Linked DNA regions of Homo sapiens. The protein of the gene in region 1 purifies or fractionates together with the protein of each later gene. This does not show direct contact. Each region holds a gene or a part of one and is shown on either strand. Other genes may lie near its edges.

Region 1 (3,819 bases):
CCCCGATCCACCCTACCACCAATTTGGCATTTACTGTGTGATTGTGTTCTTTTAAATATGCCACATGAGGCCAGGCGCAGTGACTCACATCTATAATCCCAGCACTTTGGGAGGCCAAGGCAGGAGGATCACTTGAGCCCAGGAGTTTAAGACCAGCCTGGGCAACATGGTAAGACCCCCATCTCTACAAAACATAATAATATATATTTTTTTAATTAGCTGGGTGTGGCGGTGTGTGCCTTTGATCCCAGCTACTTGAGAGGCTGAGGTGGTAGGATTGCTTGAGCCCAGGAGATTGAGGCTGCAGTGAGCCATGATTGCACCACTGCATGCCAGCCTGAGCAACAGAGCAAGACCCATCTCAAAAAAAAAGAAAAAAAAAATTCCCACATGAGACTCCCTGTCTCCCTGGTGGACTCCCAAGAACAAGGACTGTCTTTCACATCTCTGTCTTGACTTCAACAGTTCAGCTCTGCACAGGCTAGGCATACAGTACACATAGAATCAATCCTTGGGGGAACCATCAAACATCAGTGTGGGAGAAGCCAATGAAAGAACATTGTCATTTTAAAATACTATCAGGGGAAATAGACCGAGCCAGAAAAAAGCCCTGACTAGCTCTCGGTCTGCCCACACTTGGGACCCAACCTCCAGCCAGAGCTCCATACCTGGAAGGCCCTCTTCCGGAGGTGCAGTATCCGCCCGCGGATGACCCAGGTACTGGGATGTGATCCGCGGGAAGCGGTGGTAGGCGAGCCGCGCATACTTCTCCCGGATCATTAGGGCCTTGGCCAGACTCTTGGCTGCCTGCTCATAGTCCTCCAAAGTGATCTGCAGAAGGGAGGCAGGCAGGAAAGGGTTCATGCAGCAGGCCTGAGACTGCCATCCTTGGAAAGATGTGCTTGCAAGATTGGCCCTTGCCTGGTATCTGGGAACCTAGATTTCAGGAGGGTTCTCACCACTCCTTGACCAATAAGAGTGGTTCATTGCACCTAAACTACTTGTACAAACAATATGGTTTATGTTGGACACCTGCTTTCCTTCTGGAGCCTGGAATTTGAGATGTGCTATGCAGACATGTGACCAGCCCCAGTGAAAACCCTGGGCACCGAATCTCTAATGAGCTTCCCTGGTAAACAACACTTCCCACATGTGCTGTCACAATGTGATGCTGGAGGTATTTGGTATGTTCTGATGACTCTGCTGGGAGAGGACCTTGGAAGCTTGCACCTCGTATCCTCCATGTATCGCTCCCTTTGCTGATTTGCTCTGTATCCTTTCACTGTAATAAATCAAAGCTGTAAGTACAGCTATATGCTGAGTCCTGTGAGTCCTCCTGGTGAATCATCCAACCTGGAGTGGTCTTGGAGACCCCCAACACAGGAGACACAGGAGGAGTTAGGGTCGTTGGAAGACAGACAAGTGCTCCAGCCTGCACACCCAGAAGCCGGCCTCACATGCAGCTAATTAAGCCAAAAGTCTGTTTTTGTACCAGGCCCATGGAGGGACAAAGCCTGAGTCCTATCCCTGAAGGCGATGAGCACCGTCATTTTCAGTTGAGAAAATTCATGTGTCCTTCAGATGGCGAAACAAAACAAGAAGCAAAAGCAAATTCTGCATGCTCAGCCTGCTTCTTTGCCAACCCCACACTTCTGATTAACTCTGTTAATCACCCAACTCATCCAGGCAACAAGCCCCATTGTCATGTGTTATGTGCCAGACCTTTCCATAGATTTCATTTTGCTCCTTACAGCAACCCATTTTGCAAATGGGAAAACTGAGGCCCAGAGAGGATAAATCACTTGCCAGGAAGCTACAGAGTCAAATTTCAGACTCTAACCTGATTGAGTCCCAAAGTCTAAGGATGTTCTGCTTTACCAGAGCAGCCTCATATTCAAAGATGAATGAGATAAATTCCCGCCTTCCAACAGGCTCATTAATCTTAGTCTGTTTGGGAAGGATGGGAATCGCAGAAATATGCTTGGGGAGACAAGTGGCCAGACAGACACAATGCAGGGTAAGGGGAACAGCAGAGGGAGGCACCATATGCTGGCATAGCCCAGAGTGGGGAGGGCTGGGGCCTGAAAGTGATCTCCTCTGCTTTAATAAAATCATCATTTTTAATTTTGTAATATTTTAAACATACAGACAGGCACCAAAGATAATATAACCTACCTTCTAGAGCTGACAATAATATTTAGCATAATTCTTTCAAATTTCTCACAGGTTTAAAGAAATAAATCATCACAGATACAGCTAAAACTCTACTCTCCTCCCTACCCCATCCTCAGAGGGAAGAAGTCTGAATATATTTTTCCTATGCATGTTTTTATACTTTTACTAAATACTACTAAGAAGTAGTATTTAGTAAATACTAAATACAAAAAGCAAGACTTTTTGTTACGATGGTAGATTCTCCTTTCCTGCCTCCAAATGTCCCCATAAGGTATGTTAATTCCTTTTACATCTTCCAGTGGATGGCTTCTGAGAGCGGCAGGAATAGGTGAGCAGACACCGACATCCTAGACAAAAATATGTCCCTGCCAACAACGAAGCCAAATTCTTTCTCTGGGGAACCAATGGACTCAGCATGACAAGGGGCTCATGCCATGGCTAAGGACATCAGAGAGGATGCTCAGGACCCCTGTGGACCCGTGGCCACCGGCCAAGCTTACAGGCATCACAGGCCCCATGGCTGACAGCAGACCTACTGCGTGCCAAGGAGATCTGCAAGATCAGCCTGCCTCTCACAGACACTTAGCTTTCTGAGGACCAGTTGCCCAGTTCAGGTGCTCCATGCACTACTCTGTGCCAGCCAGGAGACTGGGAGAAAGAAGCTATTATATGCTACAGGCTGACATCCTCCCATTCAGCTGGTGGCCGACCCACCTCGACTCTTGCTTTCCAATGCCCTGCCCACCTGCCTCAGGTTGGGTGAACACCAAAGACTCATGGTCAGGATGCTGATCTCCAGACAAGGCCTGCATTGTTTCCAACCCAACCTAAACTCCCATCCATGGGAACTTAATTAAAATAAGCTATGATATATCCTCATAAAGGAATACTATGTACATATTTTTTAAAAGGACAAAGAAGTTCTTTATATATTGATATGGCATTATCTTTAAGATGTATTGTTAAGTGGAAAATGCAAGATGCAGTATAATGTATATTGTAAACTACCATTTTTGTAAAAATAAGTAAATAAACTATGTATGCATAAATAATTGTAGGTACATAGACCATATATGTGAGAATACATAAGAAACTAAAACCAGTGGTTGCCTCTGAGGAGGAGAATGGGTGGCTGAATAATTGATACCATTTTTGTATCTTTTAAATTTTGTACCATCTGCAAGTGTTCTCCATTACACATAACCAAAAAAATTTTTGAAAGCTAGGGGAAATTTTATAGGAAGAGCAATAAGCTGCATTGCTTTCTCAGATTCACCATATTTTCTACAGCTACTGTTAAAAAGAGACTAATGAAGCCAACTGAGGCGTTAAGTAGTGAGTTGGGGCCAGGGAGATGGAGCCAAACTTAACCCTGGCACTAACTCAGTGATATTTCTCTCCAAGAAGCAGACATGCATAAAAAATGCATCATCCAATCAGGTGAAATTAGCACATTTTCAGTGACTGCGTTAATTGACTTAGTGTAAACCAATTTGCTCAATTTCTAAACAAGATTCTCTCTTCCTGGTTGAAGGGATCTAGCCTATATTTAAGGGTATTGAACCTACATATAAGAAGAGATGATTTAGCAACAACTAATTTCACACAAACCACTCAGTACCATGGCTTTGAATCTACTAAACA
Region 2 (3,819 bases), on another chromosome or scaffold:
TTTAGTTCAGAATCCAAGATTATAAAACACCCTGTAATGGCCGGGCACGGTGGCTCACGCCTGTAATCCAGCACTTTGGGAGGTCAAGGTGGGCGGATCATGAGGTCAAGAGTTCAAGACCAGCCTGGCCAACATAGTGAAAGCCTGTCTCTACTACAAATACAAAAAATTAGCCAGGGGTGGTGGCAGGCGCCTGTAATCCCAGTGAGGCTGAGACAGGAGAATCCCTTGAACCCGGGAGGCGGAGGTTGCAGTGAGCCAAGATCGCACTATTGCACTTCAGCCCAGACAACAGTACAAGACTCCAACTCAAAAAAAAAAAAAAAAAAAAAAAAAAACCCTGTATATACCACATTAGATGAGAGCTAATGAATGAATACTAGAAAACTATACAGAGTAGATTATAAGAGACTTTTGAAAATAATGACACTGTTCTTTTTTTTTTTGGAGACAGAGTCTTGCTCTGTTACCCAGGCTTTTTTTTTTTTTTTTTTTGGAGACGTAATCTCATTCTGTCACCCAAGCTGGAGCACAGTGGTGCAATCTCAGCTCACACCAACCTCCACCTCCCAGGTTCAAGCAATTCTCCTACCTCAGCCTCCCTAGTAACTGGGACTACAGGTGCCCGCCACCACGCCTGGCTAATTTTGTATTTTTTAGTAGAGAACATGTTGGCCAGGCTGGTCTCCAACTCCCGACCTCAGGTGATCCCACCCACCTCGGCCTCCCAAAGCACTGGGATTACAGACTTACAGACGTGAGCCACCATGCCCGGCAACACTGTTCTCTTAAGGGTAAAACAGACTAAAGTAATTCAAAATTGTACAATGAAAAATACAAACTGCCTAACAAATAACTTCATAGGAAACAAAATAATAAAGGAAATATGCATCAAGGTTTTAACAATATATCTTTTGCGGAAAAGAATAATAGGGCAGGGCATGGTGGCTCACACCTGTAATCTCAGCACTGCAGGAGGCCAAGGCAGGCGGATCACCTAAGGTCAGGAGTTCGGGACCAGCCTGGCCAATATGGCGAAACCCCGTCTCTACTAAAAATACAAAAATTAGCAGGGAGTGGTGGTCAGCTACTCGGGAAGCTGAGGCAGGAGAATCACTTGAACCCAGAGGCGGAGGCTGCCGTGAGCTGAGATCACGCCACTACACTGCAGTATGGGTGACAGAGGGAGACTCCGTCTCAAAAAAATAAAATTAAATAAAATAAAAATAAAAGAATAATAGGAACTAGGCTTCCTAAAGATTGTACTTTTATTTTAAAAATTAAGACATTTCCATTTAACACTTTTGAAGTATCAAAACACTTCAAAAAGTTCTGGAGATACAAAGATAAATAAAATACCTTATTGTACATCTATATAAGTATTATAAAACAAAAATGCATTGTGGACATTTCTGTTTCAACCATATAAAAACTATTTTAAAATATTTTCAAGAATATGTGTGTGAAAAGGGATGCTTTATAAAAAGTGAATATAATAGATTAGTTCAACTAGGTCAGTATGAGAAATAAAAAGCTTACTTAGTTTTTCTATTAATTCACAAACAGGAAAAAAAAATCTGATTTTCCAGTTCCCAAATGATTTCTCAGTTTAAAATAAATCAATTCAAAGGTCAACAAAACTGTATGCTTGCAGGAACCTAAATTATCAAGTCTGTCACTTCCAGGAAACTTTGAAGTTTTAAAATTTCACCAATTCACCCAAATTTCTTGTAATTATCATTAATATTAATATATAACCAATAATATCTACTCATGATAGCTAGTAAAATCCCAGCTTGCTTTTTTACAAAAATTGATACGCTGATCCTAAAATTCACATGGAAATGCAAAGGGCCCAGAATAGCCAAAACTGTCTTGAAAAGGAAGAATAAAGAGGTCTTCCCTATTTTAAAACTCGCCACAAATCTTCAGTAAACAAAAGGCAATTTGGTACTGGTTTAAGAATAGACACATAGATAAATGGAAAAGAATTGAGTCCAGATAAATCCTTACATTTATGCTCAACTGATTTTTGACAAAAGTGCCAAGGTAATTCAATGGGAAAAGAATAGCCTTTCAACAAATGGCACTCTAGCCGGGTGCAGTGGCTCACGCCTGTAATCCCAGCACCTTGGGAGGCCGAGGCGGACGGACCACAAGGTCAGGAGATGGAGACCATCCTGGCAAACACAGTGAAACCCTGTCTCTACTAAAAAATACAAAATAAAACTAGCCAGGCCTGGTGGCAGGCACCTATAGTCCCAGCTACTTGGGAGGCTGAGGCAGGAGAATAGTGTGAACCCGGGAGGCGGAGCTTTCAGTGAGCGGAGATCGCGCCACTGCACTCCAGCCTGGGCGACAGAGCGAGACTCTGTCTCAAAAAAAAAAAAACAAAAAAAAAAATGGCACTCTTAACAATTGGATATCCACATACAAAATAATGAATGTAGGCCGGGCGCGGTGTCTCACATCTGTAATCCCTGCACTTTGAGAGGCCGAGATAGGCGGATCACGAGGTCAGGAGATCGAGACCATCCTGGCTAACACGGTGAAACCACGTGTCTACTAAAAATACAAAAAATTAGCCAGGCGTGGTGGCGGGCGCCTGTAGTCCCAGCTCCTTGGGAGGCTGAGGCAGGAGAATGGCATGAACCAAAGAGGCGGAGCTTGCAGTGAGCCGAGATCGCACCACTGCACTCCAGCTTGGGCCACAGAGCAAGACTCCATCTCAAAAAAAAAAAAAAAAAGAATGTAGACCTTTCCCTTACCCTTATCTCACACCATACAAAAATTGACTTAAAATGAATCATAGGCCTAAATTTAGCAGCTAAAACTATAAAGTAATGAACACAGGATGTAAATGCTTTAAAATTAGATTGTGGTAATAGGTGCAAAACTCTTTAAATTTACTAAAAATCATTGACTTGTATACTTAAAATGAGAAGTTTTTTTCTTTTTTTTTTTTCTTTTTGAGACAGAGTTTCATTCTTGTTGCCCAGGCTGGAGTGCAGTGGTGTGATTTCTGCTCACTACAACCTCCGCCTCCCGGGTTCAAGCAATTCTCCTGCCTCAGCCTCCCAAGCAGCTGGGATTACAGGCATGCGCCACCACACCTGGCTAATTTTTGTATTTTTAGTAGAGACCAGGTTTATCCATGTTGGTCAGGCTGGTCTCAAACTCCAGACCTCAGGTGATCCACCTGCCTCAGCCTCTCAAAGTGCTGTGATTACAGGCATGAGCCACCGCACCCAGCCTAAAATTAGTGGTTTTTATGGCATGTAAAATACAGTTGTCCCTTGCTATACTGGGGACATTGGTTCCAGGACTCCTGCATAGACCAAAATCTGAGCATACTCAGATAAGTCCTGCAATGGCCCTGTGGAACCCAGTGATATAAAAAGTAAGCCCTTAGTATGCAACAGTTTCACATCCCAGGAATACTGTATTTTCAATTCGAGTTTGGTTGAAAAAAAAAATCACCATATAAATGGACCCATGCAGTTCAAACTCATGTTATTCAAGAGTCAACTGCATATCTCAATGAAGGTTTAAAAAAGCCACCTCTAGGCTGGGCGCAGTGGCTCACGCCTGTAATCCGAGCACTTTGGGAGGCTGAGGCAGGCGGATCACGAGGTCAGGAGTTCAAGAACAGTCTAGCCAACGTGGTGAAACGCCATCTCTACCAAAAATACAAAAATTAGCCGGGCTTGCTGGTGCATCCCTGTAATACCAGTTACTCAGGAGGCTGAGATAGAATTGCTTGAACCCGGGAGGCGGAGGTTGCAGTGAGCCAAGATCACGCCACTGCACTCCAGCCTG

Evidence for each region.
Region 2: the proteins of AMPD3 (region 1) and LRBA fractionate together in Homo sapiens (co-fractionation; one large-scale study listed by BioGRID). This does not show direct contact.

What each region holds. Positions count from the first base shown.
Region 1 is NC_000011.10:10,479,075-10,482,893, reverse strand, and holds part of AMPD3 (AMP deaminase 3), read right to left. Parts: intron 832-3,819; coding exon 669-831; intron 1-668. UniProt on the Homo sapiens protein: AMP deaminase plays a critical role in energy metabolism.
Region 2 is NC_000004.12:151,005,127-151,008,945, forward strand, and holds part of LRBA (lipopolysaccharide-responsive and beige-like anchor protein), read right to left. Parts: intron 1-3,819. UniProt on the Homo sapiens protein: Involved in coupling signal transduction and vesicle trafficking to enable polarized secretion and/or membrane deposition of immune effector molecules. Involved in phagophore growth during mitophagy by regulating ATG9A trafficking to mitochondria.